Regions from separate parts of the Homo sapiens genome. Here all the other regions are linked to region 2. The links come from fine-mapping of genetic effects on gene expression. A gene starts in region 2. Each other region holds a variant in brackets. All regions are shown on one strand. Distances are between the middles of the regions. Region 1 overlaps SEC14L1 (SEC14 like lipid binding 1). Region 2 holds the start of SEC14L1 (SEC14 like lipid binding 1). Region 3 overlaps SEC14L1 (SEC14 like lipid binding 1).

What was found. PIP is the estimated chance that this variant, and not a neighbour inherited with it, causes the effect.
Region 1: its variant is the best candidate, but not a certain one, in a credible set for the expression of SEC14L1 in whole blood (TOPMed, PIP 0.90).
Region 3: its variant is the best candidate, but not a certain one, in a credible set for the expression of SEC14L1 in whole blood (TOPMed, PIP 0.74).

The regions. Positions count from the first base shown.
Region 1 is chr17:77,211,288-77,215,385 of GRCh38, reverse strand. It overlaps SEC14L1 (SEC14 like lipid binding 1), which reads right to left. Exons shown (of 17, transcript NM_001143998.2): 15 at 3,185-3,436; 16 at 1,894-2,072; 17 at 1-1,468. The coding sequence ends at 1,363. Among named protein-coding and RNA genes, the nearest start is that of LACAT1, 40 kb to the left of the region's middle. RefSeq lists enhancers at 2,822-2,871, 3,212-3,321. The variant C/TC (reference allele first, on the strand shown) is at 1,765.
Region 2 is chr17:77,138,406-77,142,503 of GRCh38, reverse strand. SEC14L1 (SEC14 like lipid binding 1) reads right to left here and starts at 1,535. Exons shown (of 17, transcript NM_001143998.2): 1 at 1,397-1,535. It overlaps LOC105371901 (a long non-coding RNA gene), which reads left to right and starts at 1,065. Exons shown (of 5, transcript XR_934988.3): 1 at 1,065-1,148. RefSeq lists silencers at 763-1,057, 1,222-1,671, 1,682-1,891, 2,042-2,251.
Region 3 is chr17:77,163,067-77,167,164 of GRCh38, reverse strand. All of the region lies in intron 3 of SEC14L1 (SEC14 like lipid binding 1), which reads right to left. Among named protein-coding and RNA genes, the nearest start is that of SEC14L1, 24 kb to the right of the region's middle. RefSeq lists an enhancer at 3,309-3,810. The variant T/A (reference allele first, on the strand shown) is at 2,069.

The DNA of each region.
Region 1 (4,098 bases), 73 kb before region 2:
TGAAAAACACGGCCTCTGCTGCACACAGAAACACGTGTTGCATGTCCTTATCGTGGAGGCCATCCCCTATGCAACTTCTGGACAGATTCTCAAATAACCTGCTTTTCCCATAAAAAGCTGAAAAAATAAGGGCCTGTACCAGATAGAGCAGGCTTTAAAATCAGGAATTAAACAAAATGTAAAAGGCAAACAAATCCCATATTCTGATTTGCTTCTGTGAAGATTCCTTCATTACTCAAACTAAGTTTCCACTCACCCCGTCCCCCCAGCACCCCCACCGTCATGCACACATGCACACACACAGCACATGCACACACACACACGCATGAGTCCACAATTCCCATGTACAAAGAAGCAGGACTCCTACATGCCACACGCCACCCTGAAGTGGATGCGAGAGCTGCTGCTTAGCTACTAATAAAACCCCATGGACAGTGTCAAGTGGCAAATGCGACTTGCTGGTTCCAAGACGGCCTCCTAGTGGCTGGAACTGTCTGGGCTCTGAGGACAATGAGCCACCAGAGGGCACAGAGGAGATGGCCTACACTGGGCTGGGAGCTGACTGCAGGTGAGAGGGGCGACGCACGGAAGGAAACGGGAAGAACCCCCCCACCCAAGTTCACATACAGAAAAATCCTGCTCTAAAAAGTATCAAAAAGATTTGAAAAGGAGGAAAGAGAAAGTAATGTTTAACGATGGCAGCATTTTCCTGGAGTCACCAGGAGTCCCTGAGAGCCCCTCCTGAGCCCCCGGCCCCACTGCAGGACAGTGGGTGGTGTGGGTGTGTCTGGCCCTGGGACAAGGTACTCCGCAGGCAACCTCTGAATCCTCAGAGGATAAGGACCTCAAGGGCTGGCCCTAAGTCCACAGACCATCTTGACTGGCGGGAAGCATGGGGGCCGTGAGGCGGCGTGCGGGCCATGAGGCAGCTTGGGGGAAGCGAGCTGGCAGCTTCCGTCCCAGGTGAGGAGGGGCCATCTCTGGAGGATGTCACAGGAATTCATTCACTAATGGACAATGCGGAGTTCGTTGGAAAAATTTTTTGCATCAATATCTGAGACCACGTCAATCCTTTAATTGGTACAGAAACTACTTTTCTTTCAAGAGAGCCCTTGCGCTCTGGTTGGATTTTGTGCACAACGTATACAAAATCTATGGCTATTGAGTTAAGTTAGGATCAGAGTTAAAACTACCTGCCAAGGTAGTTTTGGGATCAAACGACTACGTTTACCATCTGAGAGCTATTTGCTATCTAGAGGTGAGAGGAGTCTGTACAATGTCGCCGCTGGGTGGGCGGGTGCAGCTGGCTGTCCGAGGAGGGGCGGCCGTCCCCTCTGCACACTAGGTGCAGGCAGCGCGGCACTACCTGGAGATCATGGAGCTGGAGTGGGACTGGCTGGAGGAGGTGGTGGCGGCACTCAGCTGGGAGAAGCCGCTGTGGCTGGACTCCAGGCTCGTCATGGAACCTCTGTAATGGCACAGGGAGGGGCGAGGCGTGAGGACCACCCTGCCAACCACCCGCCGGCCCACACTGCCTGCTGGACTTCGTGGCCCACCCTGTTCTCTGCTCACTTCTCATCCCCATCAGTGCTTGCAAACGGGGGATGGACATGAGTAACCCACCAGGGGGACCGGCTTCCCACAGCCTGCACGCAGACGGCAGTGTGAGCTAAAGCAAAGGCAGTCAGTCGGCTCTGTCTCCGACACTCTCCCTCTGCAGACAGGCAGGGAGTCACCGTGCCAACAAATGACCCCAAAGCCACT[C/TC]CCTCCTGGCCCTCCAAGCATTCCTGACACCCGCCGCCACTGCTGATCCTGCACACGGCGTGGGACTGCAGGCTCCCTCCAACCATGCCCAGCTGTCCGCAGCACCTGCTGTGGCGAGGGTGGCCGCACCTGAAATCCTCCGAGCCGATCACCTCGGTGTAGTACATCACTTTACACTTGTGCGAAGAGACCTGCAGGGACGCAAGCACGTCGTCCACCCGGGGAAGGCTGCTGGCGGCGCACGCAGGCATGCTGTGGAATTTCCACTGCAGGATGTAGAAGCCCGGCCACCTGGTCACATGGGAACCCTAGAACAAGTAGGGCAGTGGCAGCTGAGGGCGACTCGCTTCCGACCCCTGGCCTACCACAGGCCTGACAAGCGCCAAGGGGACTGTCTTTAGGATTTCATGTAGCTACGGAAACTATCTCAATGGGATTCAGAACCTGCTATTTTGCTTCAGCAGCAGGTTTGACAATGTCCTTCCCTCTACTGAGTGTGGTCACTCCCGGGTGCTGGGAAGCCCGGAGGGACAAGCTCCATGTCCGTGGCCCTCACGAGGCCTGCCCAGCCCACCCCACCTACGGAGGCAGGAGCCTGGCAGGCTGGTGGCACCCATGCTGGAGGGAGGGCTCAGCACAGCTTCCCTGGACCTGGCCTCACTTTCTCTGACATGCTGCCAATCATCCAGCATGTTCGGGGCTGAAGGCACGTCACCCTAAAGTGAGCCGTCAATCCGTGGAAAGCTCCTTCTCCATTCTCTCCGAAATTCATGACTGGTTAACACAGCTTAGCTGTTCATTGTTTTTAAAATGGACAAAGGATTCTTTTACTCTGCCTCTAAGACCACTGAAACACTGACAAGCCTTACCCCTGAAAACTGTAAAGGCAGCAAAACGATGCATCTATTATGAAGGCCAGAAGCAATGCCCCCGCCCCGAGGCTACTGTGAGCACAGGCACCCAAAATAACCAGCCACAATGTGAAAAGGGAACTGAAAGCATTTGAAACAAATTAGAAGGTTTGGTAATGAGAGCTAATAGTTCTCTAAGTACTTGTCCCTCTTACTTCTATTTAGGGTGATTTTCCTTTGAAAAAGACAAACACAACCCGGTGAAATGAGGCGGGGGGGAAAAATCCTATGAAGCCCAGCTGGGCCCGTGCGTGCGATGCCTTCCCTTCCTGTCACAGGCTGCTTTTGGGAAAAGTCGCAGATTCTGTCCAAAACCACTGCGAGGCCTGAACTCCTTCCTACGAGACCCACTTGGCTTCCTGCTCCTCCAGGCAAGCTGCTCCTCCACAAGCAGGGCCTCAAAAGCTACACAGGGCTGCTCAAGGAGCGAAGCAAAGAGTCTACTCAAGACAGAATCACCTGGCCGTGTGGAGTCACGGATGCGCGATTTGACCTGTGTGTGATTTTACCTGCACGCTTTCTCCTTCTTTGCAGATCAGAGGCGACTCCACCATGCTGTAGTCGCGGCCCAGCTGCCAGACTTTGTCTATGAGCTGCACATTGTTCCCACCCGGAGAGGTGATGCTGTGGGCTCCCAGGGAGTCCTTTTTGGGTGGTTGTGGCGACCTCTTGGAGTGATAGATGTTAAACACAATGTCCCCTTTGCACACGTCGAAATCCCAAGTGATGACTGACGAGGCATCCACAATCTGAATGAGAATCTGAAAAAGAGGCAGCGTTAGGCAGCCACGATCCACGAGCACCAGGCCGGCATGCTGCGAGCGCATCGTGCTCTCCAGGGGATCCAGGGTGCAGGTGCTGAAGCTGGGGAGGGAAACGCTGAATGCGTATGGACGGATCTCTTTCCCCAGAGTCACACACCACCATCCATTCAACCGCTGGATCCTGCTACATGTCATGCACCAAGCTCTGTGTTCTTTGTGACCTGCACCTAGAGGTCCAAGATCTCCCATACACCATCTTCACACACACTCTAAGAGGCCAGGTCTTAGAAACACCAAACACTGTGAGCTCGTACATGAGTGGTTCAGAGGACTGCCCTGGGCTGGACAGAACAGAAGGCCCTGGAGAAGGTGAAAGCTAAAGAAAGAGCAGGCAGGGGAGCCTGAGGACAGCGTTCCCAGCAAGGGGGAAGCAGGGGCATGGAACCGGGCCTGCCGTGTGAGGCTCACACGAGAGAACAGTGGCGAGGCTGGGTGAGCGGGATGAGCCCCTGGCATAGTAGAGATGGGGTTGAGGTGGTCACCCCCTGGGTGCTGAGAACCAATTGAAAACCAAACTTACACAGCACCGACAGAGCTACCCAGGAGGGAATAATCAAAGTTAGTTTCAAAGATTGGGCGGGGGCGGACGTGAGAATGAA
Region 2 (4,098 bases):
TCACTGCAGCCTCCACCTTCTAAGCTCAAGTGATCCTCCTGCCTCAGCCTCCCAAGTAGCTGGGACCACAGGCACGCACCACCATATATATTTTTTGTAGAAGGTTTCCCCATGTTGCCCAGGCTGGTCTCAAACTCCTGGGCTCAAGGGATCTGCCCACTTCAGCCTCCCAAAGTGCTAGGATTATAGTCATGAGTCACGGCGCCTGGTATAGAATTCCCATCTATAGTACTAAGGTTTAAACAGGTTTGGAACTTTCTCTGGTATGTCTGGCATACCTCTCAGAGGAGAGGTCATGGTGGAAAACATCGCCATCTGACAGTGTGAAAACGGCTAAGGAATGACTCTGGGTGACCACGAGTAAGCCATTTGACTTCCCTAGGACTCAGTTTCATCTCTGTAAAATGAGGTTTTCGGGGAGATGATCTTGAAAGACTTCCACCTCTAAAACCATGAGAATGAGAGCCAAACTCCCAAGTTCTCCAAACTCAACTTGAAGCTTTTCTAATATTCATCTTGATTATGCGACTGACACATCCTGATGTGCTGGGACCACGTTCTTTTTCTTTTGCAAACCTTACAGTGTTGGTGCACAGTGGGAATCCAATCATCTTTTAAAAATTTAATTGGGAATATTAATTTTAGGGTACTCTCCCAGATATGAGGACGATAACCGGGTACAAACAAGAGTTGGGGGAAGAAGCAAAAAAGCGTAATGCTCGTTTAAGAAACGGTAACATCCATTCAGGATTCCACCGCCTGGCAGAACTGGCTACACTCACTTAAGAACCTGCTAATTCACGAGCTTGTGAACCACAGCCAGGTCTCAGCTGCCGATGCTCTGGTCCAGATAAACGCCCTACGCGGGCATCCGGAGTGACAACGACCAAGTGGCATCCAGGAGCCGGACGGCCTCCATTGCATGACAATCGCTGTTTAAACAGGAGCCAAAGGCCAGACCCACTGAACGCATCCCGAGCAGGCTCGAGGGGCGGCCGGCGCCCGGGGCTGCTCAGCAGGGGTCCCGCGCGGCTGAGCCCCACGGGGCCAAAGCCCCGACCGACGGGAGAGAGGGGCGGGCACTGGCTCCGGACCCGAAACTCCGCTCTCAGCAAAAAGCGGCTCCCGGGAACTGGAAGCCTGGCGAGGTGGGGGTGGGGGCGGGGGAGGGGGGCGAGGGGCGGCGAGGGGCGAGCAGGGGGGCGGAGGGCGAGCAGGGGGGCGGGGGCACGGCCCGTTTCGGGTGCCGGGCCGATGGCAGCCGGGGCTGGGGAGGGACAGGCTCAGCAAGCGGGCGGCCGGGAGTTCCGGGGGGCCCGCCCGAGAGGCGCCGGACTCCACGGAGACCGGGACCGGGGCGAGGGCGCACTCGGACCCGCCGCGACGACGCGCCTACCTCTTGTCAGAAAGGCCGGGCCTGGGACACGGGGTGGCGAGGGGCGCTCATACCGGCGGCTCCGCGGGGCAGTCTCGGTTCCACTGCTCCGCGACCGTAGCTCGACCGCCGGTTCCGGGGAGGGGGCCGGGGAGGCGGGAGGGGGAAGGGGCGCGGCGACGGCACTTGTGGTTGTTACGGGTGACGGGGTGGGCGGGGCCGGGCGCCGGGAGGGGCGCGCGTGCGCGGCCGCGGCCGAGGGAGCGGGGGCGGGAGCGGGCGATGGTTGCTAAGAAAGGGGAGGGGGGAGGACACCCGGGGCCCGAACTGCGCAGGCGCGAGCTCCGACCCGCGAGCGTGGGAGGAGCTCGGAGAAGGCGCCGGCCCCGTCGCACTGCTGGATGTGCCCGAGGTCCTCGTGGCCCCTCCCAGTTTTGCGTCACTTGTTGGGGGCGGGGCCGGGCTGGGCTTCGCGAGTAGCGGGCGGAGGCGGAGTGAAGCCCCAAGGGGCTGCCGGCGTGCAGGGGAGGGGTTCGGCTGAGCGGGAAAAGGGAAGTTTGCGGGAGGTCAAAACCACCGGGGCCCTCCCGTATGGCTGCTGCTCTGAGGCCTGCCTCTGGTCGCCCTGGCGGCTGCCCCCGTGCTTCCTCATTTCTTGTTGACTGTTCAGGAGCACCAGGCTGCTCGCGCCAGTGCCCCGACCGCATTCTCGCCGAGTAATGGGGAGGAGGCGGACGCCGGTGCTGCGCGGCCCAGGGCTCGGGAGGGCCCGGGTGAGCCCGGGTGGAGCCCAGCGGCATCCTTGTCAACACATCCAGACGGCTCTAGTGTCGGGCCGCGGGCTTGAAACTGAGACGCGCGCCCAGGGCCTGCCCCTCGGAAACGAGGGTGCCAAGGTGGGGCTGCTAAGTAGCTCCCGAATTTCAGCAGGAGAGCACCGTCCAGCCCCAATTTTCAATCCGGTACCACTGAGACATTTTGGGGTCCTTAAGAGGAGCTCATGACTAGAAAGGGGCACCTCGCATGCCCACCCACACAGCAAAGCTGGTTTTATAACCAACATGCAATTTCACTGTCAAAGTCACTGTTGTTCCGTTCACATTAGTCACCCTGAGTGGCTGTACATTTCATGCTGCCATTGGACAGAACGTTTTTGGACCTGTTTAGGAATTTCCATCAAAGCCAGTTTACCAGACACACAAGCAAATCATTCATGGCCTCATCACCCCTTGTGTTCCACGTCAAACCATCATCTTCCAGCTGGGTCACCTACATTATTCACTACATTCAGTCTGACTGGCTTTTGCTTGTTTGTAGAAATCACATCCACCGGCCGGGCGCGGTGGCTCACGCCTGTAATCTCAGCACTTTGGGAGGCCGAGGTGGGCGGATCACGAGGTCAGGAGATCGAGACCATCCTGGCTAACACGGTGAAATCCCTGTCTCTACTAAAAATACAACAGATTAGCCGGGCGTGGTGGCGGGCGCCTGTAGTCCCAGCTACTTGGGAGTCTGAGGCAGGAGAATGGCGTGAACCCTGGAGGCAGAGCTTGCAGTGAGCCGAGATCGCGCCACTGCACCCCAGCCTGGTCGACAGAGCGAGACTCCGTCCCAAAAAAAAAAAAAAAAATCACATCCACCTTCAAAAGACGCTTTAACGCCGTTGCGGTGGCTCACGCCTGTAATCCCAACAGTCTGGGAGACCTAGGTGGGTGGATCACCTGAGGTCAGGAGTTTGAGACCATCCTGGTCAACACGGTGAGACCTCGTCTCCACTAAAAATACAAAAAGTAGCCGGGTGTGGTGCCAGATGCCTGTAATCCCAGCTACTTGGGAGGCTGAGGCAGGAGAATCACTTGAACCTGGGCAGAGGTTGCAGTGAGGCAAGATCACGCCACCTGCCCTGCACTCCAGCCTGGGCTGGACTCCAGCAAGACTCCGTGTCAAAAAAAAAAAAAAAAAAAAAAATTCACCTGACCTGCTGAACTTCTAGATGCAACCACCAGTTTACAGGAAATACAGAATAGAGGAACATGCTAAATGACACCATGAAAAACAATTGGCAAAGTACAGACTGTGGGAAACGGTACAAGACAAATATATTCTTTATCAAATTCCAAAGGAAAAAAAGAGGGGAATGGTCAATCTATAGATTAAAAGAGATTGGGAAATTTGTTGAGCCATACATTCATTTATGATTTGCAAGCTTTTATATGTATATTATACTTCAGTTAAACATTTTGAAGAAAAAACAGACTTGAGACATCAACCAATCACAAAAAACTTTATTTCCATTTTTTTTTTCTTGAAACAGTCTCACTCTGTTCCCCAGGCTTGAGGGCAGTGGCATAATCATAGCCGTCTGCAGCATCATCACCTGGCCTCAAGTGAACCTCCCACCTCAGCCTTCTGAGTAGCTGTGACTACAGGCATGTGCCACCACGCCTGGCTACTTTTTGCTATTTTTTTCCTTAGGTTTTTTTTGTTTTTTTGTTTGTTTGTTTGTTTTGAGATGGAGTCTTACTCTGTTGCCCAGGCTGGAGTGCAGTGGCACGATCTTGGCTCACTGCAACCTCCACCTCCTGGGTTCAAGTGATTCTCCTGCCCTCCTGCCTCAGCCTCCCGAGTAGCTGGGATTACAGGCGAGTGCCCAGCTAATTTTTTTATTTTTAGTAGAGACGGGCTTTCACCATGTTGGTCAGGCCGGTCTCAAACTCCTGACC
Region 3 (4,098 bases), 25 kb before region 2:
AAAAAAAAAAAAAAAAAAGGAAAAAGAAAAGAAAACAGAAAGACAAACAAGCTTCTTTTAAGAACCTAGAAAAATTTCTAACATTACTTATTCAACATTCACTCCCTTCTCCAACAGGCACAGGGCTGAGGACACATGAACACAAGACAAGGGTCCTACCCATGAAGAGCTTTCATCTGGGGAGAAACACATCAGAGGGATGATCAAACCAACATGTATATATGGAGAGCCTAGTACGCATGCACCCTAATCAGCTTCCCAAAGATTACTGCATTTAATAGGTACAATCTTTATTTATTTTTGTTTTTTTCTTGTTTTTTGTTTTTGAGACTGAGTCTTGCTCTGTCACCCAGGCTGGAGTGCAATGGCACGATCTTCACTCACTGCAACCTCCACCTCCCAGGTTCAAGCCATTCTCCTGCCTCAGCCTCTGAAGTAGCTGGGACTACAGGTGTGCGCCACCCAGCCTGGCTAATTTTTTATTTTTAGTAGAGACAGGTGTTTACCATGTTGGCAAGGCTGGTCTTGAACTCCTGACCTCAAGTGATCCACCTGCCTCAGCCTCCCAAAGTGCTGGGATTACAGCCATAAGCCACTGCACCCGGCCCTTAATAGGTCTCATCTTTCCATGACATAAGTGTTTCTCCCATTTTAAAATGAGAAAACAGAGGCTGAGAGAATTTGAACCCAGGATATGAACCCAGGTCTGCCCCACTCCAGTTACCATTCTATTTCAGAGCACAGGCTTTAGAAGAGGCAGATCTGGCTTCAAATCCCAGTTCCACCATTAAAAGTGGTCCTTGGGGAGGCTATTTAATTTCATTAAGCTTCAATTTCTTCATCATCTTCAACTTGCAGCATTGTTGAAAGATTAAATAAGAAAACATAAAATGTTTGGCAGGCCCTGACACAGAATAAGTAGGGGGCCAAGCATGATGGCTCAGGCCTGTAATCCCAGCAATTTGAGAGGCCAAGGTGGGAGGATCACTTGAGCCCAGGAGTTCGACAGCAGCCTGGGCAACATAGCAAGATCTCATCTCAAAAACAAAGAATAAGTACAATACTCAATAAGTGTGGCTACTGTTCTGTGCAACACATGAACCTCTCAAGGAGGAAGACACTATTGGCAATGAAGTAAAGCCGCTGTCAGGCCCACAGTCCAGGAACCAGCTGAGCTATGCACAAGATGAGGAGGGGGACCTTCTGAATGCAAACAGTTTAAAACACTAAACATTTTCATTTGACATTTATCTTTTCTACTAAACTTTGGAAATGCACCAAATAAAATCCATGTGTTCACCAAACTAAAATAATTATCTCACTCATGACCCTAAAATTACAAGATGTAAATCTCATGAGACTTTGCTAGGAACCAGTTATTTTAAGTAAATAATTAGCCGACTAAAAAAAGGAACTAGGTATAAATAGGAGCATATTAGGTCTCCTGCCTTCTACAGAGAAAAGAAAAGGCCAAAGGAAGATAATGGCAAAAAAAATGATCATACTTCAGTTCAGGCACTGGGAATAAAACACTCCCCTTATCATATAAATTGTGAAAGGAAAATCAATCTTGGGGCCCCAAAATCACTCAGCTAAAAGGAAAAGTCAAACTGGGAGGCAAATCTGCCTCCCATTCCACTCAAAGTCACCCCTCTACTCACTGAGAAAAATGCTTCTGGCTGCCTCTCTCACCCACCTGCGACCTGGAGACCCCCTCCCTGCTTCGAGTTGTCCCGCCTTTCTGGACAGCACCAATGTACATCTTACATATACTGACTGATGTCTCCTGTCTCCCTACAATAAGTAAAACCAAGCTGTGCCCTGACCACCTTGAGCACATGTTGTCAGCACCTCCTGAGGCTGTGTCACAGGCACGTCCTCAATCCTGGCAAAATAAACTTTCTAAATTAACTAAGACCTGTCTCAGATATTCGGGGTTCACAGAAGAAGAGGAAATATATGGATTTAGTTATCTAATTCATTGATTAGCTACGTATACTATATTCGGTTGACAGAAGGAGAAAATATGGCCCTGAAGATAAATATCAGTCAAGTGGAAAGGGAACTT[T/A]CATAAAATAAATGAAGAAAAAGGGGTACTGAGTAACAGGATGTTCTCTGCAGAGGTTTCCGGTTACAGGTAGCCCTCAATCTGGCTTCTAATGGCATTAACGTTTTCCACAGAATAAGGAAACACGATCTACTTGGAAGAGAAAGAATTCATGTCAGGAAGCGAATTGCTCAGCTCCATTGTGGCCTGAATAAATGTAAACATGAGACTGTTGTTCCCACAGTTCTGGGAGGTCATCTACTATTCTCAGGACAAAAGCCTTCTCTGCCACACAATTATCTGCCAGACTCCACACTGTACCAGTATCTATGGCCTTCAGCTATTTTAAGCTCAGCTTTCCTAGCAACTTCCTCCCACTCCGCATCACCACCACCCTCACCCGCACCCACCCAATTATCATGTCTGCAACTCAGCTATCCAAGTGTCCTTTCCCTCCACTCCTCCAGCACTGTCATTCTAGGACTAAGACACAAACCGGGGAGGCATATGGCAGAGCAAATTAGAGCCTGGGCTCTTGTGTCAATGGACCTTGATTTGAATCCCAGCTGGACAACCTGGAAGCAAAGGCCTCCTGTCCAAGCAAACAGAAGGAAAGCCACCAACAAAGGGGGAGCGCTGGGAAAAAGGGTTACTGCCCAGCAGGGAGACGGATCACACCAGACAGAGCAAAAGGGAAAAGAGGTGGGGGGAAATTGGGAGGTTTTTCAAAAAATTGAGTTTAATTGACCAAATTGGGCAGTCCTCCCTCAAACCAGAATTGGTTCAGAGTGACTCCCAGAGAGGTCTTTTAAAGCAAAGACTGCAAACTGGCCCTGTTGGGAATTATGAAAGCCAAGTGCCTGAGCGCCGTGGGCTGATGGCCTCCAGGTGGGCACAGGCGCTCTGCCTGCTCGGGGGCACGGTACCGGGTCAGCCCACACCGCTGTCAGCAGGCGAGGCAGCCAGGTCAGGGCAATCACTTAGTAACCAATTTCAACCTGTTTCCTCAGTTGTAAAGTGGGATGAAAGAGCCTACCCACAAAGTAAGTGTGGGCAATAAACAAGATATTGCCACACAAGCACTCTCTAAATGTTGTTCTTAGACCTGTTATATGTTCTTTAAGTATTTTGCAAATTGCGGTTCAGTGGCAGGATCCCTGGCTGCCACCCAGGAGCCCAGGCTCCTCTCCAGGCCAAGCAGTATCATCTTCACCCTGGGCTTGTCAAGGTCAAATAAAAATATAAAGCTGAATCCCTAAAACAGTTTCATTTGGGAAAAGAGAATTGCAACTTGGGGCATAGAGAAAGACCAGGTGCTCTTCGGTATGTGCGAAGAAAAAACGGAAGGCTGGGGGTTTTATGAGAAAGAGAAAAGTCATCATCTATGTGGCCCCGCTGCGAGCCGCTCCTTTGATCTTAAAGAAACTTGACAGCATATGAAGACTGAATATCCATGTGAATGCATGACACGAAGAACATGGTGACAGCGTCTGCTCTCTGCAAGTGAACAGGCTCAGAAAAGTCTGAGGGACTCTCTGAATGAACTTAAAAATTCTGCTTGTTAACAACAAGTTTGACTCTGGTAAATGGCCTTCATAGCTAAAGTATAAAACCAAAGAGGAGGGAAGAGGAGGAGAAAAAGAAAGAAAAGAAAGAAAGGTGACATACTGTTTTGAAAACTCATTGGTACTAGTGAAGTTTTTGGGAGCTGGCAAGCTCTGACTGAACCAGTCTTAGAGTCACAGTAATTCATTTCAGCAGCAAGGAGTTAACACTGGTCTTAAAGTTACAGCAGGTCACTTTGGCAGCTGGCCTTCAAGATAATCCCGGGGCAGACGCTCTGTGTCCCAGCTTTTCTTCTCCCCTGGTCCCTCGACTCCAGTTTAGTTGGGTGTGACAGGGTAAGTCCAATTCGTATCATCGATTTTCACAGACTCTATACTCGCTGAGAGCAGAACTCAAGGGGCTCAGTTGCCACTGCAAGCTCCAGACCAAGCACAGCGGCAGGAGCTACGTCAATCCCCTCCAGGAAGTAACAAGAGTCCAGGAGG